7 linked regions of the Homo sapiens genome follow. The protein of the gene in region 2 purifies or fractionates together with the protein of the main gene of each other region. This does not show direct contact. Each region holds a gene or a part of one and is shown on either strand. Other genes may lie near its edges. The genes, in order: TTK, SLC22A11, RNASEL, CNOT1, INTS12, CPT2 and KIRREL1.

The links.
Region 1: the proteins of SLC22A11 (region 2) and TTK purify together in Homo sapiens (affinity purification with mass spectrometry; one large-scale study listed by BioGRID and IntAct). This does not show direct contact.
Region 3: the proteins of SLC22A11 (region 2) and RNASEL purify together in Homo sapiens (affinity purification with mass spectrometry; one large-scale study listed by BioGRID and IntAct). This does not show direct contact.
Region 4: the proteins of SLC22A11 (region 2) and CNOT1 purify together in Homo sapiens (affinity purification with mass spectrometry; one large-scale study listed by BioGRID and IntAct). This does not show direct contact.
Region 5: the proteins of SLC22A11 (region 2) and INTS12 purify together in Homo sapiens (affinity purification with mass spectrometry; one large-scale study listed by BioGRID and IntAct). This does not show direct contact.
Region 6: the proteins of SLC22A11 (region 2) and CPT2 purify together in Homo sapiens (affinity purification with mass spectrometry; one large-scale study listed by BioGRID and IntAct). This does not show direct contact.
Region 7: the proteins of SLC22A11 (region 2) and KIRREL1 purify together in Homo sapiens (affinity purification with mass spectrometry; one large-scale study listed by BioGRID and IntAct). This does not show direct contact.

What each region holds. Positions count from the first base shown.
Region 1 is NC_000006.12:80,007,176-80,011,534, forward strand, and holds part of TTK (dual specificity protein kinase TTK), read left to right. Parts: intron 1-633; coding exon 634-856; intron 857-1,210; coding exon 1,211-1,317; intron 1,318-3,638; coding exon 3,639-3,782; intron 3,783-4,258; coding exon 4,259-4,359.
Region 2 is NC_000011.10:64,568,843-64,573,201, forward strand, and holds the end of SLC22A11 (solute carrier family 22 member 11), read left to right. Parts: intron 1-809; coding exon 810-1,016; intron 1,017-2,136; coding exon 2,137-2,200; 3' UTR 2,201-4,033; downstream 4,034-4,359. UniProt on the Homo sapiens protein: Antiporter that mediates the transport of conjugated steroids and other specific organic anions at the basal membrane of syncytiotrophoblast and at the apical membrane of proximal tubule epithelial cells, in exchange for anionic compounds.
Region 3 is NC_000001.11:182,582,227-182,586,585, reverse strand, and holds part of RNASEL (2-5A-dependent ribonuclease), read left to right. Parts: coding exon 1-1,259; intron 1,260-2,419; coding exon 2,420-2,505; intron 2,506-4,327; coding exon 4,328-4,359.
Region 4 is NC_000016.10:58,538,566-58,542,924, forward strand, and holds part of CNOT1 (CCR4-NOT transcription complex subunit 1), read right to left. Parts: intron 4,004-4,359; coding exon 3,863-4,003; intron 3,771-3,862; coding exon 3,666-3,770; intron 3,056-3,665; coding exon 2,936-3,055; intron 1,395-2,935; coding exon 1,203-1,394; intron 350-1,202; coding exon 207-349; intron 1-206.
Region 5 is NC_000004.12:105,701,720-105,706,078, reverse strand, and holds part of INTS12 (integrator complex subunit 12), read left to right. Parts: intron 1-104; exon of another isoform or gene 105-200; intron 201-688; exon of another isoform or gene 689-765; intron 766-2,269; 5' UTR 2,270-2,431; intron 2,432-3,055; exon of another isoform or gene 3,056-3,193; intron 3,194-4,359. UniProt on the Homo sapiens protein: Component of the integrator complex, a multiprotein complex that terminates RNA polymerase II (Pol II) transcription in the promoter-proximal region of genes.
Region 6 is NC_000001.11:53,203,324-53,206,823, forward strand, and holds part of CPT2 (carnitine O-palmitoyltransferase 2, mitochondrial isoform 1 precursor), read left to right. Parts: intron 1-3,500. UniProt on the Homo sapiens protein: Involved in the intramitochondrial synthesis of acylcarnitines from accumulated acyl-CoA metabolites.
Region 7 is NC_000001.11:158,080,316-158,084,674, forward strand, and holds part of KIRREL1 (kin of IRRE-like protein 1 isoform 1 precursor), read left to right. Parts: intron 1-4,106; coding exon 4,107-4,264; intron 4,265-4,359. UniProt on the Homo sapiens protein: Required for proper function of the glomerular filtration barrier. It is involved in the maintenance of a stable podocyte architecture with interdigitating foot processes connected by specialized cell-cell junctions, known as the slit diaphragm.

The sequences.
Region 1 (4,359 bases), on a different chromosome or scaffold from region 2:
GACCACGGTAACTATGAGTTTGTTGGACCAAGAAATTATCAGGGCCTCTAGCAGAAATTTAGGTTACTTGGAGAGAAGAAAATGATTGTCTCATTTGTTTATTTTTTGTAAAGCTGGTTTGGTTTTACAAGTAAGTATGAGGTATACAGAGATAATGTTGAATGGTTAAGGTTGTAAAGAAGGTTATGTTAGGACTGGAGCAGTAGGTTTAATGAATAAATCATTGATGGGAGAATTTTCTAAGTTAATTAGTACAAGTGGCAGTGGGAGAGATTTAGTTTTCTATGGATAGGTAGGATGCTAAAATTATAGTTATCCTGCAACAGCATAAAATTTTCTTAAACTACATACAATTTTTAAAGGCTACTTACAAAAAAACTCACTTATTTCCAAATGTTTTCTTTCCTTCAAAATATATAGCTTTTGGATAAAGTATACCTTCATAAAAGATAAATACACGATAAATAAGTTACTTGTATTTATATGAACTTTTACAATTTTAAAAAGTATTATAAGGACTTTATGTACATTGATACTGACAGTACAAATGTTTGACTATATTTTGAAGGAAAAATGCAATTTGGCATTTGTTTTATGTCTTTTCTTGTGATATATTTTGTTCCCCTTATTTAGATAACTCGGGAACTGTTAACCAAATTATGATGATGGCAAACAACCCAGAGGACTGGTTGAGTTTGTTGCTCAAACTAGAGAAAAACAGTGTTCCGCTAAGTGATGCTCTTTTAAATAAATTGATTGGTCGTTACAGTCAAGCAATTGAAGCGCTTCCCCCAGATAAATATGGCCAAAATGAGAGTTTTGCTAGAATTCAAGTGAGATTTGCTGAATTAAAAGCGTAAGTATTAGCATTTTAACTATGTTCAACTATGTTACATAATATGTAACTACACTGCAAAGAGAGAAAATAAAAAACATGGCAGTATTGTGAGAAAATATTAATTTTTTTACCAAATACTTTTGCTTATAGTTAACAAGAGACTAATGTAAACTCTTTTCTATGCACGTTTCCACAACAGTTTACTTATTTTAAACTGCCTAAAAAGATTTTTTTAAAATAACTTATTAGTATTTAATTTTACCCACAGAAAAAAGCAATATCCCATGTTTTTTGGAAAATTGAATGAAGCATTATCAAATTTAAGTAGCTATGTTCTTTTTCTTAAATTTTGACTCAAATCTTTTATTACAGTATTCAAGAGCCAGATGATGCACGTGACTACTTTCAAATGGCCAGAGCAAACTGCAAGAAATTTGCTTTTGTTCATATATCTTTTGCACAATTTGAACTGTCACAAGGTAATCTGAAAATGTCAAATTCAAATTTTAAGTAAAGGATAACTTATTACAACTTACTTCCTAATATTAAATCATATATATGAAGTGGAAATTTGAGGCAAAAGACATTAAAGTTGATCAGATGAGAATATGGGGAGAAAATGCCACCTAAATGTAAATGCAGAGAATATCTGTTATACTAGCTTTTCCATGTATAAAGAGTAATCCAGGGAAATGAGCATGAACATTGTGTATGTGCTACTAGTTAGATTCAGGAAACATCTAAAGGAAAGTAGCTGCTTCACTGAGTATTTGTAGGAAGAAGGATATCAGATATTTAAGCTAGAGCTTTAAATATCTAGAGCTTACATAAACTTTTCTTATGCTATGGTTTCATAGCACCAAAATGTACATTAAAGTGTAGCTATGTAACTTGGTGGTCAAGTAAACTATATATCTGTGTGTGTGTGTGTGTGTGTGTGTGTGTGTGTGTGTGTAGCGTTAATTGGTAGTTCTTTAAAATAAAAAAGTAAACTGCTGTAGAAACTATTTCTTGCTCACTTGGTTCTTCATAGTCTGGATTTTTTTGGGTAGGACCAAGACAATCTCTTCCTAAGACATTTTTAACCTGGCCATTCCTTAGTCTTTTCTCATTTTCCAGGGCCTTTGGATACACCCTCAGTCTGCCCTCTGGCCAGGTGTTTCCATTCTCCCACTGCCTTGTTTCTGCTACAACTGTGATCCAATTTACTGCCAGTGATAAACATATTAACACTATTGGAAGAATCCCCATGATGGTTTCCATAGCAGGGATTGGTCACTGGAGAGTATTCCCCAGGATTGAGCCTGGAGAAAATAATTATATGACTCAGAAATAATTTGAGAACCCTGAATTGTTACCCATTCAGATGATTTCTGAGTCCTAGTAATTGTCTTCTCCAATATGTCCTTTGCTCTATCAGGTTACTTTTTAGAACTATTATCCCTTTCTTCTCTAGAAAAATGGATTCCTCCTTGCTTGTTAGAGAAAATTTGGCAAGGCTTCTTTCTCTCCATTCTGCTTGAAAATTTCTTGAGGTATTGTGGCCTCTCAATAACAACCATAAATTTTACATGTTTAGAACATGTAAATATTGAAACTCTTAAATTGAGTTATCTGTAAAAAAGACGAACTTTATCTATACCACTTTATCTGCAATGTGGTAGTAATGCACAGTGATGCAATGTGGTCAAATGCATTGCACAGTAATGCAGTGTGGTCAAATTATGATTATTTTGAGCACAGTTGATGGCTTGGCTGTCAGGAAATAATGCAGCATCCCTGAAGTCCTATGCAGAGTCTGGTGTGTGAGTATTTTTATAGGGATGGAGGACATTTCAGTTTTTACCAGATTCTTAAAGAAATCTCTGATCTCAATACTAAGCTATCTGATTAATTAAGCTTCTTAAGCCTTTCTCTCTTTTCTTGTGCTAAAATACACAATACATGAAATTCTACCACTACTTAGTAAATGTAGATGTAAGCACTATCAAAGATATTTTTAAAAATTTATAAACTACCAGAAGCTAGAGATCATCTCTTAAGCATTTTTATACGCTAAGTACCAAGTGCATAGCATAGCTCAATGGCTCCCATAAATGTTGATAATATTCTGTAAGATATGTGATGTATACATTTAATATTTATATGTCAAATGCTAGGGGTAAGTTTACCAATTTTTTTGGTAATCTGTCCATACTCAGAAAGGTAATTATGATAGTTCCTCAGTTATTCTGCATTCTTTTTCAGGCTGGTATAGCTGAGTGTGACAGCTAAAGATTAATCTGTATTTATTATGTTTTTCCCCGAAAATCCTTTTGATGGAAGATGCTCTTTAACAAAAGATGTCATCCTTCCCTTAACTAAATGTCATTATGAATGATACTTATTATAGCATGTTGTAAGAGACTGATGCTCTTGGCACTTTTGTAACATCTAGAATGCCCTCCTGTTTCTAACTGTTGTGATTGGCCTTTGCTGTCCCCTGTTGGTAACTGCTTTGTTACACTTCTGTTACTTCTGAAAGTGGACAGTGGTGATAAACTAATGCAAAATTACGTCAGCTACATATTGCAAGGAAACTATTTGGTATGCATTGTTATCAGAAGAGAGTTGGTTATCTGCATAAAAAGTGAGAGATTGCTTACTTGCCTATGAAATAAAATACATGAGCCTTGGAATAAATATTTTTGCTTAAGTCTTTTTGATTTTTTTTTCTAGGTCCTGATGAATACGTATCTGGGTGGTCTGGGTGGTGGGCATTTTACTGCCTAAAAATGACAATTATCTTTTGCTTTGTTAGGTAATGTCAAAAAAAGTAAACAACTTCTTCAAAAAGCTGTAGAACGTGGAGCAGTACCACTAGAAATGCTGGAAATTGCCCTGCGGAATTTAAACCTCCAAAAAAAGCAGCTGCTTTCAGAGGAGGAAAAGAAGAATTTATCAGGTAACTATTAAGGTATACTAATACTTTCTGTGGTAGGTAGTACTTCAAATAAAGATTCGGGATAATAATTTATAGAAAAATATTATTTATGTAGAATGGTTAAAATCTAAGATTAAATTGTAAAGGAGGTAAGACTGAGAAGTAAAAAAGTCTCTACAACCCCATGCAAATTTGTCTTTTTTGCTAACTAAACTTTCGTTAACACATGAAAAACAACTCTAAGCAAGAGAATTTTTTTTTTTTTGCTTTTGGAAATAGAGAATGTGCTTTTACCCTGGGGAAATAGTTATATAATTTAAGAGAATTTGAAGAAGTAGTTAGATAATTATCTTGGTATCATCTTCATGTCTGCATATCTTACTTGGGGACAAGTATTTCCTATGAATTGACTTTTAAAATATTCTTATTTGTAAGATCACTTTTTTGTACTTGTCTTATTTCTTATAAATTTAATCATAGTTTCAAAATTTTTACAGCATCTACGGTATTAACTGCCCAAGAATCATTTTCCGGTTCACTTGGGCATTTACAGAATAGGAACAACAGTTGTGATTCCAGAGGACAGACTACTAAAGCC
Region 2 (4,359 bases):
GAAAGAAGGGTCTGGCAGCCAGGGAAATGCAGCCAGGGCCGCTCAGGGTCCCCCCCAGGACAGCTCTTCCCCTTGAGAGTCTCGACCCAGACAGAAGCAGTACAGTAGAGCCCTGGGGACATCTGGGCCTGTGTTTTCACACCATTTTGAGCCACAGAGTCATCTGTCCAGATGGAATCTTATAAGAATCCTGATTAGGAGACCAAGAGCTGCCCTGGTAGCAGTGGGGACCCTCAACTCACTTCCCACCACTCCTTCCCTGCCCCAAGAGAGCCCCAAGTCACCTCCTTGGAGCCCAAGGGCATCATAAAACACAAATGGAAAACCAGTGGTCTAGAGTCTAGGCCACCCCCACATTTGATATTTGGGTAAACTGAGGCTCGGGGTGAAGGACTGGCTCAGCAGAAGGGTAGGACTGGACTCCAGCTCTCCAGACTTTTAGCCCAATGTTCTTTCCACCACTCACTCATTTCTCCATATTTTAATTTGTTGTTTGGACAAGCATTTATTGATTTTGTTGATATCGTATGGAAAGCCTGAGTTGGGAGCTCAGTGGCCTAGCAGGAGTATGGAGAAGCCCTTAAGTTGCCCAAGAGTGGGGAAAATGAGGTGGGCCCTAGAGATTTCCCCTGAAACACTAGATGCAAAAATCTGGGTGGGCTCCGTGGAGGAGGTGGCATTAGAGGAGGCCTTGAGGAGGGCAATTCCCTCAGCCCAGCTTTCCTTCCCCTGGCATCTGTGAGCCCAGGATGTCTTCCTGCCACAGGGCCAGCTGTTACAGGGATCTGGGCCCTCCCCTTCACCCACAGGATGACAGCAGATGGCATTCTGCATACAGTGGGCCGGCTGGGGGCTATGATGGGTCCCCTGATCCTGATGAGCCGCCAAGCCCTGCCCCTGCTGCCTCCTCTCCTCTATGGCGTTATCTCCATTGCTTCCAGCCTGGTTGTGCTGTTCTTCCTCCCGGAGACCCAGGGACTTCCGCTCCCTGACACTATCCAGGACCTGGAGAGCCAGTGAGTGACCTGTGATCCCTGGGCATCGGGCTGGGCTTCCTCCTGGGCCAAGATGGAGACAGGCCTGGGCTGCCCAGGGCAAAGGCTCAAGAGTACCAAGGCCTGTGTTTCTGAAACCATTTAATCTTTCCAACAATCCTGCCAGAAATGTATTATTACTATCCCCATACTATTACTAGGGTCAGAGAAAGAAAGTGACTTATCCAAAGTCTCATGGGTAGAAAGTGATCATACCTCATGCAGGAAAATGTAATGGTTGAAAGCCCAGGCTTGGCAGCCAGGTTGCCTGGGCCCACGTTCCCCACCTGCCTGGGCAAGTGACTTAACCTCTCTCACCAAAACTGACAAAGGGAGATACAGATAGTCTCAACTGTCCTAGTGCAATTTTCCCACAAAGAATTTCAGGCCCAGACAGATCAACAGGTGAGTTCTTTCAAACCCTCAGAGAACAGATGGTGCCATCTCACACCCATTCTTTGACAGGGAGAAATGAGGGAGCACTCCCTGGCTGCATTTTATAGCCAGAACCACTTCTGTGGGCTTTAGCCTCCTCCTTTGTAAGATGGTGTTTAGAAAAAACAAACAAAACCCAGCCTGGCTCACAGAGTTGTTTTCAAGTTTAAGGGAAGTATTATTTTAAAGCACCTGGGAAAATGCCAGGCCTGCAGCAAGCACTCTGGACATGTGGTTATTGTGTCCTGGGTGACTGTTCACAGGGCCGCCTCAATTCTGATGGTGACCGAGGTCACAATGATAGTAATAATACTGAGTTCTTATTGTTTTATGTCACCTTATTTAATCGATACAACAACCACATGAGGTGCTATTACAGTCCAATTCCTTTGCCAAGGAAACTGAGATGCAGCAGGGTTATATAACTTGCCTAAGGACACCTGCAGAGACCCGGAGAAGCTGGGACTTCATTTTTTCTTTAATTTAATTGATTTTTGTTGTGTACCTACTATGTTTCAGGCACTGTCCCGCTTGGGTACACAGAAGGGAGTAAAAGCCTAATGCCATAGAGTTTACCCCCCAATAAGACTTGACCGCCATTTTGCCCCAAGCTCCGAGTACATACCCACTTCACCACATGGCACTGCTTTTCTTTGGATTATTCTAGGAAATCAACAGCAGCCCAGGGCAACCGGCAAGAGGCCGTCACTGTGGAAAGTACCTCGCTCTAGAAATTGTGCCTGCATGGAGCCCCTTTAGTCAAAGACTCCTGGAAAGGAGTTGCCTCTTCTCCAATCAGAGCGTGGAGGCGAGTTGGGCGACTTCAAGGGCCTGGCATGGCAGAGGCCAGGCAGCCGTGGCCGAGTGGACAGCGTGGCCGTCTGCTGTGGCTGAAGGCAGCTTCCACAGCTCACTCCTCTTCTCCCTGCCCTGATCAGATTCCCCACCTTACCCGGGCCCTACAGGAGCCTGTGCAGATGGCCATGCCCAACCAATAACGAGACGGTTCCCCTCCCTTTCCCTGCCAGGCTCATGTCTTTACACCTTCACTCAGCCACGCCAACCAGAGACTGGGTTCCAATCTCACCCCACCACATACAGAGCCCTCATCTGTGAAATGAGAATGATCACGTGACCCACCCCCCAGGGCAGGTATCAGGGTGAACTGATCTTAGCACCGGCCAAATAAATGGAACCTGCTGAGAGAGCTGCCAGATACAGGTGTCCAGGTTGTGCACTGGCCCGAGGCACGCAGCCAAGGAGGCGTGTGGGGTCTGAAACTCAGCCCCGGCTACACTGGCCCCACCACCCACCCTAGCAAAGGCTGTGTCCTCTCCAAAAAAAGGAGCTGTTTTAATCACTTTTCATTTACTCATCAGTGAGGGAGGGCTTCCAGCCCTATGGTTACGAAGACGGCCAAACACACCACCAAACACCAGACAGAGGAGGCTGGCAGCAGGTTACCACACACGTGCGCAGAGCCCACGAAGATGACGCTGCACTGAGGCATGGGGCGGGGTGCACTGAGGATCCGAGCGAGCAGCCAGGGCTGCAGGAAGGCAGCTTTGGAGCACAAAGGGGGTGGGGCAACTCCTGGCTTCTGCGGGAAGGTGTAATCAGCTTGTTTCATCATGCTGCAGGCTGGCGAGAAACGGAGCCTTACAAGCGTAGGGATAAGAGGAACCCCTCTTGGTCCCCTCGATGAGGGTTGTTGGGCCGGGGAGCCTCATCCACAGGGCGGAGTGAAAGGGGAGAAGGGGAGCTCACAGGCAGGCCTGCCAAGGCCTTCTGGCTTTGCCAGATGTCAAGGGCAGCACCTAATACTGAACCTTAACTTTCGGCTTTCAACCAAACGGCACCCTTTTGCTGTTTGTTTTCTGGAGGGGACACCTTTTCTTGATTCATGCCCAGACCTCCCTTGTCCAGGCCATGAAAACTCTGGGATGGTCGAGGCCGGCTGCCCATCTCAGATGGGCAAGGAAGCAAAAGTGCAGAGTGGTGGAGGGGCCAGCTTGCAGAAACACGGCCGAACCCGGCCCTGATCCTAGCCCAGGGCTCTTTCCAGCACAGGAGGCTCCTAGCCCTCGTCTCCAACCCTCCATGCCACTGATATCTGTGGCCCTGCCACAAAGTTACCCTCATGCCCTTCCCTGGAGACCCCACTCTGGGCCACCTCAATCTCAGGCCCCTCAACTCACCTCTTTCACCCTGTGTACACTGGGTCAATCACTCCTGCCTCCTCACAGCTCCCAAATCCACCTACTTCCCTTCACTCTGGCTACACCCTGGTTCACACCACGGTTGTAGCTCCAAACTGGTCCCTGATGTCTACATTGCACTCTGCACAACAGCCACCATGCTTATTAAGAAACGCAATCCAAACCAAATCCCTCCCTGCTGAAAGCCCTCCAGTGGCTCACAATAAGGATCACACTTCTCCCCCTGCCTGGTCAGGCAGCCATGGGACCCCAGCCTTTCCTCCCACTTCGGTAAATTTTAAAGGATTCGGATCATACAAAGAATGTTCTTGAACCAGCATGGAATTAAATTAGAAATCAATTATGGAAAGAGATATAGAAAACCTCTTCAAACTATACAACACACTTCTAAGTAACCCACGGGTCAAAGAGGGAATCTCAAAGGAAATGAGAAAAGATTTTGAACTGAGTGAAAATGAAAAAATGGCATATCAAAATTTGTGAGATGAAGCTAAAGTAATGATTATGGGGAAATTGATATCATTAAACACTAACATTAGAAGAGAAGAACGTTCCAAATCAAATACCTCAGCTTTCACCTGGAAAGTAGCAAAAGAAGAGTTTATTAAACTTATAGTAAGCAGAAGAAATAATACACAAGAGAAATCAGAGAATTGAAAAAACAATAAAGA
Region 3 (4,359 bases), on a different chromosome or scaffold from region 2:
TGTGGAACTTCTGCTTCGTCATGGTGCTGACCCTGTTCTGAGGAAGAAGAATGGGGCCACGCCTTTTATCCTCGCAGCGATTGCGGGGAGCGTGAAGCTGCTGAAACTTTTCCTTTCTAAAGGAGCAGATGTCAATGAGTGTGATTTTTATGGCTTCACAGCCTTCATGGAAGCCGCTGTGTATGGTAAGGTCAAAGCCCTAAAATTCCTTTATAAGAGAGGAGCAAATGTGAATTTGAGGCGAAAGACAAAGGAGGATCAAGAGCGGCTGAGGAAAGGAGGGGCCACAGCTCTCATGGACGCTGCTGAAAAAGGACACGTAGAGGTCTTGAAGATTCTCCTTGATGAGATGGGGGCAGATGTAAACGCCTGTGACAATATGGGCAGAAATGCCTTGATCCATGCTCTCCTGAGCTCTGACGATAGTGATGTGGAGGCTATTACGCATCTGCTGCTGGACCATGGGGCTGATGTCAATGTGAGGGGAGAAAGAGGGAAGACTCCCCTGATCCTGGCAGTGGAGAAGAAGCACTTGGGTTTGGTGCAGAGGCTTCTGGAGCAAGAGCACATAGAGATTAATGACACAGACAGTGATGGCAAAACAGCACTGCTGCTTGCTGTTGAACTCAAACTGAAGAAAATCGCCGAGTTGCTGTGCAAACGTGGAGCCAGTACAGATTGTGGGGATCTTGTTATGACAGCGAGGCGGAATTATGACCATTCCCTTGTGAAGGTTCTTCTCTCTCATGGAGCCAAAGAAGATTTTCACCCTCCTGCTGAAGACTGGAAGCCTCAGAGCTCACACTGGGGGGCAGCCCTGAAGGATCTCCACAGAATATACCGCCCTATGATTGGCAAACTCAAGTTCTTTATTGATGAAAAATACAAAATTGCTGATACTTCAGAAGGAGGCATCTACCTGGGGTTCTATGAGAAGCAAGAAGTAGCTGTGAAGACGTTCTGTGAGGGCAGCCCACGTGCACAGCGGGAAGTCTCTTGTCTGCAAAGCAGCCGAGAGAACAGTCACTTGGTGACATTCTATGGGAGTGAGAGCCACAGGGGCCACTTGTTTGTGTGTGTCACCCTCTGTGAGCAGACTCTGGAAGCGTGTTTGGATGTGCACAGAGGGGAAGATGTGGAAAATGAGGAAGATGAATTTGCCCGAAATGTCCTGTCATCTATATTTAAGGCTGTTCAAGAACTACACTTGTCCTGTGGATACACCCACCAGGATCTGCAACCACAAAACATCTTAATAGGTGAGTCCCCAATCCCCAATTCTCTCTTAGAAATTGTGGGATCTTTGTTTATGATAGGAAAAGTTTTTCATTGCAGAGAGGAAAGGCCTAGAGTAAATGTGGATGATTCAATTTGTGGATCATTATTACAACAAATTCATAATTACAGTGCAGTGTCTCCTGCTACCAATTATAACTGGGTTCTGTTAGTCTACATGAAGGTTGGTAGATGCCAACAGAATACCAGGCTAGCCTTAGATTGCCATTGGCAAAATAAACAGATGAAGGCATGTCATGGATCAAAGTAGCTCCAGAAATCTGAGAATCCTAGAGGTGAGTTCCTTCAGACAAGGTGGCAGTAACCATGAAACTTACTGACAAAATTGAGGTCAAAGTTGAGGATGTCAGGACAAGATGTGACGTAGTGAAGACACAGACTCCAAGGCAGAACAAGTCAGAATCCACTAGTCCAAGCCAAACAAAGGGAAGGAAAATAGCATTTTCTTTTAAATGTTAAAAGAAAAGCAAGGCTGACCGTAAAGTCCCAGGAAGCAATATGGTGCGGGGGAGCAAGCCAGGGCTTCAGCGATGATTAGGGTGGCTTGAAGCCTAGTCTCACTAGTTTGTAGTTTTGTAACCTCAGACAAGTCACTTGATACTGTGAGCCTCAGTTCCTCACTTGAGGCTGATAATGCCTCCTTCGTAAGTTTGTTATGAGGTCTAAGTGCAATGATGAAATAGTAAGTCATTTGGTACATCATAGGTGCTCAGGAAAGGCTGTTCTTGCCTGAAAGGTCTAAGCAGAGTACATACCTTATCCATAGACATGCACTGAGATTTAAGCTCAGTGTAAGGGAACAGCTCCTTTACAAATCTGTGCTTTCGGCCCCTGGAATTGCATGAACGAGGAGCTGGTTAAATTTGTCCTCATCCCTTCCTACCCCCTGGCCTGGAAAAAATAAAATGTAAGTGCTGCTCTTGGCAGATACCTAACAGATCAAATGAAACAGTGCACATGGCAGTGTTTTGAGGGGTGAATGGCAAATACAGATATAAGGTTTATTATTGCCTTCCACAGAGATGATGATTTTTATAGCATGTTACATATTTATATAAATCAATTGACTCTCACTTTATGGAGAATGAGTATTTTCAATGTGCCTCTGCAAACTTTTCCTTAGATTCTAAGAAAGCTGCTCACCTGGCAGATTTTGATAAGAGCATCAAGTGGGCTGGAGATCCACAGGAAGTCAAGAGAGATCTAGAGGTAAATTCTACAATCCAGTTTACCTTTCTTCTTTCTGCTTCCTTATTCTTTCATGTAGTAGTCAGGGTTCTCTAGAGGGACAGAACTAGTAGGACATATGTATATATGAAAGGGAGTTTATTAAGGAGAATTGACTCACACGGTCACAACATAAAGTCCCATAATAAGCCATCTGCAAGTTGAGGAACAAGGAAGCCAGTGATGGGTCAGTCTGAGTACCAAAACCTCAAAAGTAGGGAAGCCGACAGTGCAGCCTTCAGTCTGTGGCCAAAGGCCTGAAAGCCCCTGGCAAACCACTGGTGTAAGTCCAAAACTCCATAAGCTGAAGAACTTGGATACTGATGTTTGAGGGCAGGAAGCATCCAGCACGGGAGAAAGATGAAGGCCAGAAGTCTTAGCAAGTTGTCTGCTCTTTCATTTTCTGCCTGCTTTATTTTAGCCATGCTGGCAGCTGATTAGATGGTGCCCACCGTGACTGAATGTGGGTCTGCCTCTCCCAGTCCACTGACTCAAATGTTGCTCTCCTTCGGCAACACCCTCACAGACACACCCAGTCACAATACTTTGTATCCTTCAACTCAATCAAGTTGACACTCAATATTAACCGTCACAGTTCATTACCTTATTTCCTATGGGCAATTGGAGGGCATTCTATTTTAACCAGGAAAAAAAGAATGTTCAAGGCTTTCCCCATCTTGCTCACTGTCCTGACTCCCCTGTAGGCCATGGCATTTCCTTGGGCTTCTCCCGCAGCAGAGCTTTCAAGATGACAATGGGAAGGTGCAACAGCTTGGGTCGGTGTGGAGTTGGCTGTCACTGTGGACCCTTACTGTATCTCTTTGAATCTCTCTTCCTCCACTACCTTAATAAGTAAATAAACTGAGCATGCCACATCTTCTCTCCAGGAGAGAATTTCAAATATCTCCAATATTCATTGAGGAGTTATTTTTCTACCTAGGAACAAAGTAAGTGAGGTTTCTTTCACCACAAACTCAAACTCGTGGGCTACACTCTGCAGAAGGCTGGATACTAAGGTTCTCTGAAAACTCCTGGGAGGAGTGAGGTCAATTCCCAGCTTGAAAGAACCTAAGCTTGGCCAAAAAGATGAGGACTCTGAAATAGCTGTTGCTCCTGAGGGGACATGGAGATTGGCCGCTGTAGACCAAAGCCCCCAGGCTGATTCTGACCCTGTCAGGGTAGGTCTTTCCTGGAGAGTTTTACAGGGTGCTGCACTTTCAACCCAGTGGGTGAGACTCTCCACCCATATGTCTGGCCTCCTGGTTTGGTGGCATCAGATTTCAGCTCCCTCCTTGACTGGTGGCTAGTGCAAAGAGTTCCTTAGGCGACCTTCTTCTTGGCCTTTCCTCCTGGCCACGGCCTAATCCCTGGGGTCATCACTTTGCCTCTCCTGGCCTGGACTGACTTTTTTATTTGCTGCGTGACATAGCCTCAGACCCAAAGTCCCAGTTTCCAGCCAGGCTGTCAGTTCTCCCTGTGTTTAAAGCATTCTCCCTTTCCTCAATTTATCTATATTCTGTCCATACATTTGAGGCCCAGCTCAAATCTCTCTTCCTCCAAGCAGTCTGCCCTAACAACTGTGACTTATATGTATCTTTTACTCTTCATAAAACTAAGTGGTATGGGCGATATACTGCCTTGAAGAGGTCTGTATGCACACATCTGTGCCTTCCCTCCCTAACAAGCCTACAAATTCCTTGAGATTCCTCCCATCATCTTGTTTGCTAATAGCGTGCACCACTCCTTCCAGGGTTACCCAAATAATTAGTAAGCATCTTTGGCTTGATTTATGGCTTTTGTGCAGGACCTTGGACGGCTGGTCCTCTATGTGGTAAA
Region 4 (4,359 bases), on a different chromosome or scaffold from region 2:
ACTGGTTTTCTATATCCAACATGGGGAGAAGGTAGAGACCAGATGGAAAACAACTACTTAACAATTCTCACCTCTCAGAAGTAGGAAGTCTAAGTGTCCGACCTACCTACTAGAAAAAAGGGAAACCCCTGGACATAAACAGTACTATCTATGTCAAAAGGCAGTCGCAGTCCAATACTCACTACTTTTCGAAGATGGCTACTGACCTTGTGATCTGTTTGTTGCACCATGGAGACCCATATGCCCGGCCATCCTGCAGAGCTTTTAGGACCAAGAGGTGGCATTCCCTGTAGCGCAGCAGAAGGTCAGCATCAGCACCACTTGTGGCATCTAGTAAGCCCTCTACAGCCTATGGGAGAAAGAAAGCGTTCAAAACCATGAAAAATACAGTGCTTGGCCCAACTATCACAGCCAGAAACCAAATCTCAATGCCAAGTACCAAATACCTTCCAAAGCCTCCCTGTCCTTTCCACTCTCCAAACATCCCTTTCAGTTGCCTATCACACACACTCTAAATTCTATCTGATTTAAGTTCATTCTGTGCTCTTCATTGTCATAAAAGGCTCTGCTGTAGTTAAAATCCAGGGCTCCCTACCTACCCTGATCCAAATTATTGGATCAACTTGTCCCTCAAAATCTAAAGGGCAGCTGGGCTCAGTGGCTCATGTCTATAATCCTAGCGCTTTGGGAGGCTCAGGAGGGAGGGCCACTTGAGCCCAGGAGATTGAGAACGACCTGGACAACAAAGCAAGACCTGTCTCTACAAAAAAATTAAAAATTAGCTTGGCTTGGCAGTGAGCACCTGTAATACCAGCTACTCGAGAAGGTGATGTGGGAGGTTCACTTAAGCCCATGATCACATCACTGCACTCAAGCCTGACAGAGAGAGACCCTGTCTCTTACACACACACACACACACACACACACAGACACACACACCCCTCTAAAGGGCTACCTTTTAAAGTTTCTTCAAATCACATTTCCAGAATATCTTTAAGAAAAAAAATGAAGATTTCCAAGTTTACCATTCAAAACTGCCATGACTACATTCTACGTTGGAAAAAAAAAAAATCACCTACTTACAGAACTTGATTTATATTATGAAATCTTAAGCATAACTGCATAAATATGTAGATGGTGGTGCAGGTCAATAAATGTTTACACACCTAGCATTTTCTAAAAGTAATAGCTTAAGAACCAACCTTTTGGAGCAATCCAAGAGCAGCTATGGCATCCCGAGAGTTTCGAGATAAAACTACAACCTCCAAGAGACTTCGAAGAGCCTGAGCTTGAGGGTTCATGGCCAAAGTTGGTGGGATGGCATGTAGATGTTGCTCCAGTTCTGTAATACACTTATCATAAATCTGAGCTACATCATCTGTTGCCCAAGCTTGCTGTTTTACAGAAGGAAACAACCAACAAGAGACAAAAGAATGTTAAGGTTTTTTATTGACACATGTATCAAATAGAGGTCTACTAGTATGTTTACTCCCTTTTTCTTATTTTTACATTCAAACATGGAGGGCCTCTTCTTTTCCTTCTTCCTGAGCTATTCAGAATTAATACCATCAAGTGGCACAGTACAAGGCAGGCATAAGGGAAGAGGTGTTTCATTTGAGAGAGGAAAACCTGGCAGACAGCAGCATAATCAAGTGATAAAAGAGAGCATTAGTAACAATGAGACAGACTGAGGGCAGCACCACTTGTACCATCTACTAAGCCCTCTATATCCTAAGAAAGTAAGTGTTTCAAACCATGAAAAATACAGTACTCAGTCCAACTGTCAAAGCCTGATAGGATAGAGTAAGAATACAGCATTACTTCTGAGCTATTCCTATTTTTAAAAACACATTACCTGAACCTAGTCATGAGAATACACTGGACAAACAAATCAAGTCATTTAGAAAATAATTAGCCTATAATATTCAGAAGTGTTATGGTCATGAAAGATGAGGAAAAACTGAGTTACCTACACCAGCTAGAACTGAGGGAGACTTTAAAAATATGACAACTGAAGAAATGTGTGATTCTAAAACAGGTCTTTTACTATACATTATTGGGATACATGGTGAAACTCGAGTGAGGTCTATGAATTAGATGGAGTAAGGTTATTAGTATTCATTTCTGACCTTAATGGTTGTACCATGGTCACACAGGAAAAGGGTTTTTTAAGAAATACAAACCAAAGGAAAAAGGTTTTGTAAGAAATACAAACCAAAGGATTCAGGAGCGATGGGGGTATCAGGTCAGCAACTTACTATCGACCGGTTCGGGGGAAAATATTTTTCCCTATATTTCCAAGTTTTCTGTAAACACCTTTGAAAATTTTAGAAAATTCTTTTATTTAAAAAATGGGAAGGCTGGGCACAATGGCTCAGGCCTGTAATCCCAGCACTTTGGGAGGCCAAGGTAGGCGATCACTTGAGGTCAGCAGTTTGAGTCTAGTCTAGGCAACATGGCAAAACCCCATCTTTACAAAAAATACAAAAATTAGCTGAGCATGGTGGCACACGCCTGTAGTCCTAGCTCCTCAGGAGGCTGAGGTGGGAGGATCGCTTGAGTCTGGGAGGTGGAGGTTGCAATGAGCTGAGATCGCGCCACTGCACTCCAGCCTGGGTGACAGAGAAAGACCCTGTCTCAAAAAAATAAATAATAAAATTTAAAAATAAAAAACCGAAAGTTATTATGTTACCATGAGAATTCCCCTAATTAGGCCGAACATTAAAGTTAAATCACCCACACCCATGTCAATTTTTCTTTAATCCCCTGTATGTCATACTTAATTGGACACAAAGAATACCTACAACTCAAAAACTATAGGTGTTTTTTCCCCTGTAAATTATTCTCCCAGGAAGCAAGTCAAAAACATATATTAAATGTCAAAAACATTTAAATTAATTGGCAAAACACTCAATTTAATCTAAAACACATTTACCTTCATGGGCTGGGCTAAAAATCCCGTGGGCTGACTTAAGTCATTTGTAGGTAAGAAGCCAGGAACATTGCGTGCAAACTCTTCGTAAACAGCCAACTGCTTTGGGTCCACACCACCAACCTTGAAAGAAGAAAACCTATTTTGACAGAATTCACTCAATAATCAAAATAAACTGTTTTGAAAGTGGAAAGTCTGCATGTGGGTAAGCTCAGGGACACAAGAGTCATTACAACATATAACAGCATGATTAAGCATGCACGCACACACAAATGCAGTTCAGAAGAGGGCTTCTCATTTCCCTGAATCCTGCTAAGAGTCACCTCATTTATAAATTAACTGAGAGTTTCTCTTGGAAAATGCCTCACATGGGACGATGCCAGTGCAATTCTCCCTTGAAGCTGGTAAATATTATCAGATTTCTCACTGTCTCACTGGGAACAATAAGCAACCATTAATGTGAGAAGCCCAAGTTGGGAAACATGAAAACTAGCAGGCACATGAACTCCTTAGAGTAATAACACTTCAACAACTCTGGAGGAGCAAGGGAATTTAGAGCTATTTCCATACCTCCTCCACAGGCAGCCATTCAGTGAAATGCTATCAAGTTAAGATGTTTTCTCATAAACAATATTTAACCCTGCTGTCCTAATTCCAGTAAGGAGTTCAATCAACAACAACATTAAAAATAAAACAAAGATGGGACGGGGAAAGACAGAGCCCCAATTCTCACTTTCAGCCTGATTTGCTCTGGCATCCGTTCAGCTTGATATGTTAAAACAACAGGATCACAGTATCTGCGTCCTTCTTGCCTAGCATGTTTTCTCAGCTCAAATTCCTGCAAACAAAAAAAGTCACTGAGGTTCTTGTTATAAGGCACTTCCCTAAATTAAAAAAGAAAATCTTAAAAGGCAAATTCTAAACACTTACAGTTGCTAATCTCTTGTCCATCTCAGGGCCTGCTTTTTCTACTGCAGTCTTCTGAATAAAACAGCAAGCCAACTCACAATTGTCCTGAGCTAATTGAGCAGCTGCCTGATCCATCATTTCTCTTTGTTGTGGGGAAGCAGTCTATTAATGGAGGTGGGTGGGGGGGTGGGGGGAATAGAAGGAAAAAGACTTGAAAGTTGATGTGGACAGACAGGATAGTAGAAAATGCAGTGCATTTGGCAAATGCATTTTAAGTTCTGACTCTACTTATGAACAAGCTGTGATCTTGAAACAGTCTTAACAGCTTCCTCACTTTTAAGACAAAAATATCCTAGACACCTTATCAGTTTATTGTGAACATGCCTTAAAATCAGTAAAGCAGGCCAGACGCGGTGGCTCACACCTCTAATCCCAGCACTTTGGGAGGCCAAGGCAGGTAGATCACTTGAGGCCAGGAGTTTGAGACCAGCCTAGCCAACATGGTGAAGCCACTTCTC
Region 5 (4,359 bases), on a different chromosome or scaffold from region 2:
AGAGATAGAAGAGGAAAAACAGAAAAGTTGAGTATAACAGAACTCAAGGGAAGAGAAAGTTTTATGAAATTGGAAGTAGATAACAAGTATTTACTTGGCCAACATTTACAGTTATTTGCTGTTTTCCAGGAACTCTGCCAGACAGGGGTTACAACAGTAGGCAAGACCAATCCACTGCCTGCCTTCATGGAACTTACATTCTAATGAGAAAGAAAGATTATTTACATAATTAACAGTGTGATTAATATTACAAATAAGTACAGAATGTTTTTGGGCTATGTAACAGTGAAACTTCTAGTTTTGTTGAGGGAATGTGCAGGAAAAACTGAAACTTGAGAGGTGACTTAAGATGGAGGTGGGGGTGGCACACTTTCTACTGAAGTGCTAAGGTAAGAAAGAGTATATTGGAGGACTTGAAATAAGTCAGATAGCTATAACAGAGAGAGTGAGAATGGCCTAAGATACTAGGTAACATTTAATGAGTGTCAACTATGTGTCAGGTACTGTTGTAACTGCTTTATATGTATTATTAATCATGTAGAGCAATGGTCCACAACCTTTTTGGCACCAGGGACCAGTTTCATTGAAGACATGGTTTCAGGATGATTCAAGTGCATTACATTTATTGTGCACTTTATTTCTCTTATTACTACATGGTAATATATAATAAAATAATTGGACAACTCACCATAATGTAGAATCAGTGGGAACCTTGAGCTTGCTTTCCTGCAGCTAGACGGTTTCATCTGGGGATGATGGGGTATACTGTGACAGATCATCAGGCATTAGATTCTCATGAGGAGCACACAACGTAGATCACACACATGCACAGTTCACATAGGATTCGCATTCCTATGAGAATCTAATTCCACCAGTGATGTGACAGGAGGCAGAGCTCAGGTAGTAATGCAAGTGATGGGAGTGGCTGTAAATACAAATGAAGCTTCCCTCGCTTGCCTACTGCTCACCTCCTGCTGCATGGCCTGAAGGTTAGGGACCCCTGATGTAGAGAATTGGAGACCTTGTTAAGAATCTTATTCTTGAACCTTTGGATTGTGAGAAGTGATAAAAGGATTTTAAGCAAGTGAGTGATATGAAAAGGTTTAAAGGGATGACAAGAGTGATTGTGGGAGACTGATTAAGCTTTTGCAGTGGGCCAGATAATAGATGATGCTAGGTTGGTCTAGGGTGGTAGTAGTAAGGATTGAAAAGGGTGGATAGATTTGAGGTATGTTTAAGAGGTTTGGTTATTGAATTGGGGGTGGGAATTAAGGAAGTGGGAAGAGTTAAAGCTGCTTCTGGGTTACTGGCTTGGGCAATAGGGTAAATATCATTTGAAAAAGGGATTACTAGAGGAAGAACTGGTTAGGAGAAAAGGGAATAGTGTATGAGTGGCTCTGTTGGAGACACGTTGCATAGGAGGCACCAATGATATATCCATGTCAAGCTGGCAGTTGGATCTTGGGAGAGACACATGGACTGCAGAGATGTATTAGTAATCACTGGCAAAAGACTATATAGATCAAATTGTCTAGGGCAATAATTCCCAAACTTTAGAGTAGATAGAATTGCCTGGAAGGCTTAACACAGATTTCTAGACCCTACTCCCAGAGTTTTTTCTTCAGTAGGCCTAGGAATGGAGACCAAGAGTTTGTATTTCTAAGTTCTGACGTGATACCTATGCTGCTGACTCAGAGAACACATTTTTGGAAGAAGATGTAGAACAAGTCAAGAAGAGACCCAGAACCTAGCACTGAGGAACTCATTTTTAATTGGATAGGAGGAACCTACAAAGATGACTGACAAAGAAGTAGGAGGGACAATCGTATGTATTAGGTTTACCTGACTGAGGCGGCGAATGACTCATGAGAGCATTTTCATGGAATAGTGGGACAAAGGCTGAATTGCAAGAATTGCTGTGTAAATAGAAGGAATGAAGAAAAAGAGTACAAAAGCATATGATTTCTGAGAACGTTTTGCTATAAAAGAGAAAAGATAGAAGATGTTTGAATATATTTAATGTCAATGAAAAGATGCCAGTAGAAAGGCTGAAAAAAAAAAAAAGAAGATATGGGAAATAATCCATAGGCCAAGGTTCAAGAGGGGACAAGAAGAGATAGGATCCAGATCCAGGTGACACTACATAGAGAGCTACCTTCTCCTTTTTTATCAGATGGGAAAGAGGAAAGGATGAGTGCAGGTAAGTTTGTAGATGTGCTGGAAGGAAGTCGACTTAATTCCTCTCTGACAGCCTCTCTTTGTGAAGTAGGTGAGGCCATCTACTGAAACACAGAAGCAATTTTAAAAGAAAATGGAGGAAGTATAACTGATCTTTGCAGAAAGTGGGGAAGTGAGTTGACCAGAGAAGGATGAGAGAATTGCCAAGTTGTACTGAACGCCAAGCTGAGAATGGTGATTCTGAAGATAGAATGTATGTATATTCCTCCCAGTTGCACTTAGAGTTTGGGTGCAGGCAGAGAGAGAATGGCTAGCAGGGTGGATGTCTATAAAGTAGGGAAACTACAGGGCTTTCGGGTGCCTAGAGTACTGAAAGAGGTATTGAAAGGGTGGACCACAGAATGTGAGCTGGATAGGAAGTAAACGGCATACTGCAATAAATCAAGGATAATAAGAGATACAGAAAAAAGATCATTGTTCAGTAATGGCGATTTTTGTGCTATATGCATTTGACACAGCTAATTCCCAGCATCACCTAAGAATTCACTCCTATCAATACTACTACTACCACTTCCCTAGGTCAGCGAAAGCTTTAAAGTGGTAAATATTAATTTTCTCACATTCTCCTTTTTGAAAGCAACATCTACTTTTTAAATGAAACCTACATTTAATATATTAAATATCTTTCATATATACATTTTTCTTTCATACACACACACAGGACTTTGTTTTCTAGAACTCTAATCCATAGTAAGAATGATATGGCTCTTTTGCAGTCTGTTTTGGCCATGGGTTTAGGAATGAATATACAGGAAAGGAATTGTATAGAAGTAACATGATTTGGTGTAACTCCAGGAAAATATTTTTGTATGTGTAGATCAACACAGTTACACCAAGTTGCTGACCTCTTTATGACTGCTGTAGAAAGTAAACTTCTTTCACTATATGGATATTTGCCGGTAAGGAAGGAAAAGTAACAGAGATTAGAGAAGGCAACAGAAAAGGGGGAGTAAAGGTAAGATAGAAAACTAAAATATAAAATATAAACCACATAACCATAAGTGTTTTATTTTAGGTTCAACTACTGTTTTCTGTTTGGTGAGGAAACAAAAGTCAGGGCAAGAGGGTGCCAATAAGGAGAAAGCAGAAGGGACAAGAAATTGGAGGCTTCTGTAACAAAGAACAAGTAGAATGGGAATAGAGAAATGAATAAATACAGAAGAAAGATTGACTTGGCACTTTGAAGAGGTCCCTGGATTAAGGCAGTGGAAGAGATAGAGTAATGGAAGATTGTAGTCAGAAAGGAGAATTGATTGTAATAAAAGAGGACAATAGTTGTGGCAAGTTTCAGATTTCACTGGCTGAAGATAAAGCTCCTTGAGGTTAAAGATCAATTATATAACACACTATTATCACTCTGTATATGAATAGATTTTTAAAAAATAAATAGAAATAGAAATAAATTGGCTGGGCGCGGTGGCTCACGCCTGTAATCCCAGCACTTTGGGAGGCCGAGGCGGGTGGATCACAAGGTCAGGAGATCGAGACCATCCTGGCTAACATGATGAAACCCCGTCTGTACTAAAAAATACAAAAAATTAGCCGGGTGTGGTGGCGGGCGCCTGTAGTCCCAGCTACTCGGGAGGCTGAGGCAGGAGAATGGCATGAACCCGTGAGGCGGAGCTTGCCATGAGCCGAGATCATGCCACTGCACTCCAGCCTGGGCGACAGAGCGAGACTCTGTCTCAAAAAAAAAAAAAAAAAAAAAAAGAAATAGAAATAAATTAAAAAGTTAATATTTTTTTCTCTGTATTCCACCATGGGGACCACTGGGTCAAAGGGCCATGTTAGTAATTTAGGGGAGGGGTACAAAGCCTGTTAAGTTTTATAATGGCAAGATTGCATAAAAAGAACTGACTCCAAGGTTCCAACTGGAATGTTGGTGTTGATGACTTCCGCAGTCTTGTAATCTAGGTGCTGACTCTTGTCACCTAATCTGTAATGTAAACCTCTTACCTGTGATTGTAGAAATACATAGCAATAAATACTTGGCTTTCATTTTTCAGCATAGAAATTTCAAGAAATGGTTTTTCTAATATATTACAAGGGTTCTTTTAGGTGTCAACCCTTTGGTCAGCACCCAATAAAATAAATTGTTTTATAACAATCTGGATAAGTAAA
Region 6 (3,500 bases), on a different chromosome or scaffold from region 2:
ATAGGGATTTGTAATTTTGGGTAACTCAGTATCTAGTTTTATGCTATTATGATCATAGAAACACTATTGTCAGCTGACTCATGTAGCATATTGGGATTGTTTTTCCTTTCCAGTACAAACTTTTTGTTTTCTCTGAAGTTAATAATTGTTCCATCTTTTCTCTTGTTTAGTTTTCTATGTGCTTACTAATTTACCCCCAGACTCTTCCCAAGCTGTCTGAATCTCCTCTCAATACATGAAAGCAGATTGGACATTCTATCCCTTTTGGTCTTCTTGACGAAACTTCTTCCAGAACTTGCGACATGCTGTAGTCTGGATTTGTGAACCTCTTGGCCTACTGTGAAGCTGCTCTCCTGTGCTCTTTCACCATCAGCTGGGGCATCTGTCATCTCTCTCTCATGTTGGGACTCGTGTTTCTTGTCTTTCATATTTTCTTATTTCTTGGCTTTTTCTTTTTCTTTTTTTTTTTTTTTAAATCAGAGCACATATTCCCTGTACTATCTGGAAACAGAATATGGGAAGCAAAAATTTTAAAATGGCCCTTATACTTCATTGATAATTTGTTTGGCTGGGTTTGAAATTATTTTCCCACAGAATTTTGGAGGCTTTGCTCCATTGTCTTTTAGCATCCAGTGTTGCTGTTGGTAAATCTAATGTTATTCTGAGACTTAATCTTTTGACTACTTCTTCTCTCTGCCTTTGGAAGCTTTTTAGAATTTTCTCTTTGTCCCCAGTGTTTTGAAATTTCAGGTAATGTGTTTTAGTATGTGTTGGGCCACTCTGTGAGTCCTTTGAATCTGGAATCTCATCCTTCAGGTCTGGGATATTTCCTTGTTTTATTTCTTTGGCTTTCTTCCTCTCCATTTTTTTTCTCTGTTTTTTCTTTGTGGAACTCTATTATTATTCAGGTGTAGAATTTCTGGGTCTCATCCTCTAATTTTCTTTTCTCTCACATTTTTCATCTCTTACTCTTTTTGTTACATTTTCTTGGGAGACTTACTTAATTTTAATCTCTCAACCTGTTTTTAAAACTCCTGCTTTCCTATTTTTTACTTCCACAAGCTCTTTTTTCTTCTTATGGTGTTCTTTTTAAAAATAGTTTATCTCTGATAATTTTTTTTTAAGATCTCTTCTCTCTTCATAGTCTGTTGCCTCCAAGTTGCTTTTCTTCTGTTTGCTTTGCCCTTTTCTTTCTTCAGATGCTTCATAATCCTGTGTTGTCTTCGATATGAGTGAGATATTAAAAAGCTCTTGGAAGCTATGTGGATGGGGGTGAGGCTTGTCAGTTACAGGCTTTGCTCTAATGTGATTGATATGGTTTGGCTCTATGTCCCCACCCAAATCTCATCTTGAATTGTAATCCCCACGTGTTGAAGGAGGGACCTGGAGGGAGGTGATTGGATCATGGGGGCAGTTTTCCCCATGCTGTTCTCATGATAGTTAGTGGTTTCTCACGAGCTCTGATAGTTAAAAAGTGTTCAGCAGTTCCCCCACTTGTTCGCTTTCTCTCCTGCTGCCACATAAGATGTGCCTTGCTTCCCCTTCACCTTGCGCTGTGATTGTAAGTTTCCTGAGGCCTCCCCAGCCACAAGGAACTGTCAGTCAATTAGACCTCTTTTCTTTATAAATTACCCAGTCTCAGGTGGTTCTTTATAGCAGTGTGAAAATGGACTAATATAGAAAACTGGTACCAGGAGGGGGGCATTGCTACAAAGATACCTGAAAATGTGGAAACAACTTTGGAACTGGTTAATAGGCAGAGGTTGGAACAGTTTGGAGGGGTCAGAAGAAGACAGGAAGATGTCAGACAGTTTGGAACTTCTTAGAGAGTTGAATGGTTTTGACCAAAATGCTGATAGAGATATGGACAATGAAGTCCAGGCTGAGGTGGTCTCAGATGGAGATGAGGAACTTATTGGGAACTGGAGCAAAGGTCACTCTACTGTGCTTTAGCAGAGAGACTGGTGGCATTTTGTCCCTGTCCTAGAGATCTGCAGAACTTTGAACTTGAGAGGGGTGATTTAGGGTGTCTGACAGAAGAAACTTCTAAGCAACAAAGCATTCAAGATGGCTTTTTCTGAAAGCATATGGTCATATGCATTCACAGAGAGATGATGTGAAAGTGGGACTTATGTTTAAAAGGGAAGCAGAGCATAAAAGTTTGGACAATTTGCAGCCTGACCATGCAGTAGAAAAGAAAAACCCATTTTCTGGGGAGAAATTCAAGCCACAAGCTGCAGAAATTTGCATAAGTAATGAGAAGCCAAATGTTAATAGCCAAGACAATGGGGAGAATGTCTTGAGGGCATTTCAGAGATCTTTACAGTAGCCCCTCCCAGCATAGGCCCAGAGGCCTAAGAGGGAAAAATGGTTTCCTGGGCCCTGCTGTTCTGTGCAGCCTCGGGACATGGTGCCCTGTGTCCCAGGCACTCCAGCTCCAGCCATGGCTAAAAGGGGCCAAGGCACAGCTCTGGCCATTGCTTCAGAGGGTGCAAGCCCCAAGCATTGGAGGCTTCCCCATGGTGTTGGGCATGCAGGTGTGCAGAAAACAAGAGTTGAGGTTTGAAAACCTCGTCCGGCCGGGTGCGGTGGCTCACGCCTGTAATCCCAGCACTTTGGGAGGCCAAGGCGGGTGGATCACAAGGTCAGGAGATCGAGACCATCCTGGCTAACATGGTGAAACCCTGTCTGTATTAAAAATACAAAAAAAATTAGCCGGGTGTGGTGGCGTGCACCTGTGTCCCAGCTGCTGGGGAGGCTGAGGCAGGAGAATAGCGTGAACCCAGGAGGCAGAGCTTGCAGTGAGCCAAGATAGCACCACTGCACTCCAGTCTGGGTGACAGAGCAAGACTCCATTTCAAAAAAAAAAAAAAAAAAAAAGAGACAACCTCCTCCTACATTTCAGAGGCTATATGGAAACACCTGGATGTCCAGGCAGAAGTCTGCTGCAGGGGTGAAGCCCTCATGGAGATCCTCTACTAGGGCAATGCAGATGGGAAATATGGGGTTAGAGCCCCCACACAGAGTTCCCAATGGGGAGCCTAGTGGAACTGTGAGAAGAGGGCCACTGCCCTTCAGACCCCAGAATGGTAGATCCACCGACAGTTTGCACCATGTGCCTGGAAAAGCCACAGGCATTCAATGCCAGCCTGTAAAAGCAACCATGGGGCTGTACTCTGCAGAGCCACAGGGGCAGGGCTACCAAAGGCCTTGGGAGCCCACTTCTTACATCAGCATGCCCTGGATGTGAGACATGGAGTCAAAGATTATTTTGGAGCTTTAAGATTTAATGGCTGCCCTGCTGGATTTCAGGCTTGCGTGGGGCCTGTAGCCCCTCTGTTTTGGCCAATTTCTCCCTTTTGGAATGGGAGCATTTACCCAATGCTTGTAACACCAGTGTATCTTGAAAATAACTAATTGGTTTTTGATTTTACAGACTCATAGGCAGAAGGAACTTGCCTTTACTCAGATGAGACTTTGGCTTGTAATTTTGAGTTAAT
Region 7 (4,359 bases), on a different chromosome or scaffold from region 2:
AGCTACTAAGTGTTGCAGTAACAATGTCTTATAATGGCACCCAGTGGCTTGGTTCAATCCAGGAAGAACCTGGAAAAGGAGAATATCAAGGGGAACCCTAGATGGAAGAGTGCCTTGTTTAAAAGCTTGCAGGCCAATGAAGGAGAGCTACATAGCAGGAGAGCCGACTGGCTTGTTTCGAGGGCATGGTGGGTATTGAAGGTATGGTCCTTGCTGGCCTGCCTGGGTGACTTGGGTGGATGAGAGAACAGGGAGAGACCCCAGGAGTAACTTTAAGCTGAAAGAGAGACAGGGACGGTTAGTGCAGCTGGAGGGGCTTTACACGCCTGGGCAAACACCTGGGCATGGTGTCTCCTCGGGGCTCTACCCATCCAGGATCTTCCTCCCGGGTGTGGCAGCAACATGTGACCTTAGAGGGGCCTGAGCAGACCAGGAGGCCCTTCTCCCTTCACTCTTTCCTCTCCTTGTCTTTCTCTTAAATTCTCAAACACCCTGCCACCTGCAGCACACGGAGGCAATAAGAAGGCATGACACTTCCTGCATCCCTTCCTGCGTACCTGCTTACCCACAGCCTTTGCTCATGGCAGCTGGGGGACCCAGAGACTAGGCAGGGCAGAAATGAGGAGTGGGCTGTGCCCAGTGCCTGGTATCAGCCTCCCTGCATGATGTCAGCCTTATAGACTCCTCTCCTCCCCAGCCATCCCCCTCAGCAGCCCCCCAGCTCCCCAGGCCAGGGGCCCTCTTCACAAAATGGCCTCTGTCATTCTTCCTTAGGGTAGGACTTTGAAAAGAAGCCTCCCACTCCCCCGCAGATGCAGACATAACATAGATATACAGACCTCCAAAACCATGGTGATGAGCATGACTTCTGGGTCAGGCAAGCCTGGTCCACATCCTAGCTCTGCCCTCTAACTCACTCTCCTGTCTCTGAGCACATTTGTTTATCCTCTTCGAGCCTCCGTTCCTTATCTGTAAATTGGGGTTAATATATTTACCATGAAAGGAATAATGAAATATACTTTGTGGTAGGGATTAAATGAAGTCATATACAGGAGGCACTTTGGCTGACACAAGGTGAACGTTCACTGAGTGGCAGAAGTTATTGTCGATCCCACCACCATTTACAGTTGGCTTCACCTTCTTGATTTTGTTTTGCAAAATCAGGGGAGTAGGTGTCCATTGTATTTTTGAAGTTTTATAAACAAGGAGACTGAGGCTTTTTTGACCACAGACTCAGGGGCACATGAGTTTGGGGAGGCACATGAGCATATTGATATACAGATTTAAGTCACAAACCATAAAAACTTGCTTATAAACACATGCACACATGGACACATGCCCTTTAACAGCTGGCTCAGCAGGCACCTTAACAGCTTTATTGTCATTTGTCCCATATATGAGGGACGAGCTCATATATGAGGGATGAGCTCACGGAGGATGGGCAGAGAGTTTGGAAAATTCAGAGAAAGGTAGACTGCTGGCAGAGGTGACAGATGGGTAGTCTTTGCATGAACAAAGGGGCAGGAGGCATTCCCAGGGTAGAGGAAGCTGATGCCTTCCCAGCGGAGGGGCTTCACACACCCGGGCACACACCTGGGCATGTTGTCTGCTCGGGGCTCTGCCCATCCAGGATCTTCCTCCTGGGTGTGGCAGCAACATGTGACTTTAGAGGGGCCTGAGCAGACCAGGAGGCCCTGAGCAGCAGCTCTTTATTCATTTCTCTCCACCTTTCTCTACTTTTCAAGCTGCTCCCCATCCCCATCCTCAAACCTGTCCCCATCTGGCATTGGAACCAGATACACCACAGAACAAGGAGGAAGAGCCAGGGATTCAGAGGATAATTAGCCAGGCAGGAGTTGGAGCCACTGCTACTCTCGTCCAGGCAGTAAGGCTAATACATTCCATACCTCACACATGCCCTGCACATCATAGTCTATGTATAGTATCTCATCTGACCTTCATGAGGCTCTAGTGAGTATGGTTATGTCTTGGTTTCTTCTCTGATGAAGAAACTGAGACTCAGTGATTTTAGGAACTCATCCGAGATCACACAGCAGGTAAACAAAGGTGCCAGGATTTGAAACCAGGCAGTCTGAATCTAAGTTTTATTCTTTTTCCACTATACCACTAGGCACACATGAGTTGAACAGAATGCTAAGACAGGTTTCGAGTAGTTTCTACTGGAAACCCCAGCATAGAGACCTTCATTGTGTAAATTCTAGAACAGCCCTGTCCACCACTGGGCACCGTGGGTCTCCCAAGATCTCCTCTTGAGTGTTCCCTCTGCACACTCCTCTCGAGTGTTCCCTCTGGACCCTCCTCTGGGTCTTTCTTGTCTTTCCCAGAAAGAAGCAAACAAAATCTTTTATCGGTGGAGCACGCTGGCTCATGCTTGTAATCCCAGCACTTTGGGAAGCTGAGGTAGGAGGACTGCTTGAGCCCAGGAGTTTCAGACCAGCCTGGGCAACATAGCGAAACCTCGTCTCTACAAAAAATAGAAATTAGCCAAGCATGATGGTGTGTACCTGTAGTTTCTGATACTTGGGAAGCCGAGGTGGGAGGATTGCTTGAGCCCAGGAGTTCCTTTCTCATTTATGGTTGATGAACACTGGGGGGACCAGAAAAATTATAATCAAAATCCTTCTGCCTTTATTTCATCAGTATCCATTCATTAATTCAGCAAATATCCCTGAGCACCTGTGATCACCCAAGCCCTGGGCTAGACATTGAAGTGTTGATGGTATATCAGAAGCAGCCGCTACCCTCAGGGAACTTACAGTCTGGTTTGTCTTAGAAGCCTATGGAGATAGGGGAGGGAGAGCCCCCCTTGTTTGCAACATCATACATCGGTCAATTGAATTCTTTAAACATTTAGCAAGAGCCTACTTGGTCACATTCTAGGCACTGGTGACCATATAAATATTAGTGAGACAGGGTTGCTGTTTTTCCAGGGGATCACAGTTTTGGTTGGGGCAGGGTTCGATAACTGTTATAAGTAAACAAAATCCAAGGCGCTAAGAGCTCTGAGTGACTGGTGGGGGCCACCATGGTGGGGGTGGGCTACAGCATGGAAAGCCTTGTGCATCAACTGGGATTTGAACAGGATAGGAAGCACTTCAATAGAAGCTGTGGGAGAAGGGCATGCCATATGGAAAGCACTGCAATGCAGGTCTTGGCTTGAGGACCCTGAACAGGAGGCCGAAATGCTTGGAACTTATGCCCTAGGCAGTTGTAGCCATTGAAGGTGCTTGAGCAGGGGAGTGGCACATACTTAGCTGTGCTGAAGGGAAAAATAACCTGCTAGCAGTGTGACATGGAGGTTACTGTAATAGGCCAGCCCATCTGTCTGCTCCAGGGCAGAGGAGCAGACAGGAGGAAGGATGGGAGAAGTGCTATGGAGGTAGCCACCTTTCCGAGCCAGACTCCCAAGACTATGAGCTGTACTCAGGGCCTGAGATAGCCCAGCCCTTTCTTAAGTTTGAGGCTTCCATCTGTAGTGTGCAGCTCTGAGCAACTGTAGGGGTATGGAGCCAGGCACAGTGGTTCACGCCTGTAATCCCAGCACTTTGGGAGGCTGAGGCAGGTGGATCACCTGAGAGGTCAGGAGTTCGAGACCAGTCTGGCCAACATGGTGAAACCCCTACTCTCTACTAAAAATACAAAAATTAGCTGGGAGCAGTGGTGGGCGCCTATAATCCCAGCTACTTGGGAGGCTGGGGCAGGAGAATCGCTTGAACCCAGGAGGTGGAGGTTACAGTGAGCTGAGATGGCACCACTGCACTCCAGCCTGGGCGACAGAGTGACACTCCATCTCAAAAACAAACAAACAAACAAACAATAAACCAGTAGGGGCATGGAGTACCAGAAAATATTATAGGCCAGGAAAGAAAAGCAGACAAGGACTGGGAAAGATGTGTGAGCTGAGGACCTAGAGGAAGCCACCACAAGAGCAATGAAGACAGTGGTTGTAGATTAGGGGGTAGGGTGGTACCGCCTACCTAGAGGCGCACATGCAGGTGGAAGGATGCTTCCAGAGGCAGGAGTTTTGGTCTTCAGGGAAGTGTTAGCCACACCCTGCACTGACTTTGCTCTGCTTTCTCCCACAGTCCCCCCAGAGGACACCAGGATTGACGGAGGCCCTGTGATTCTACTGCAGGCAGGCACCCCCCACAACCTCACATGCCGGGCCTTCAATGCGAAGCCTGCTGCCACCATCATCTGGTTCCGGGACGGGACGCAGCAGGAGGGCGCTGTGGCCAGCACGGTGAGCTCCAGCCAGCTCCCCCAGCTCCTCCTGGGCCTAGCCCAGCTCACCTCTCCTTTCCCACAGGGGTTTCACCACAGACTCAGGAGCACACA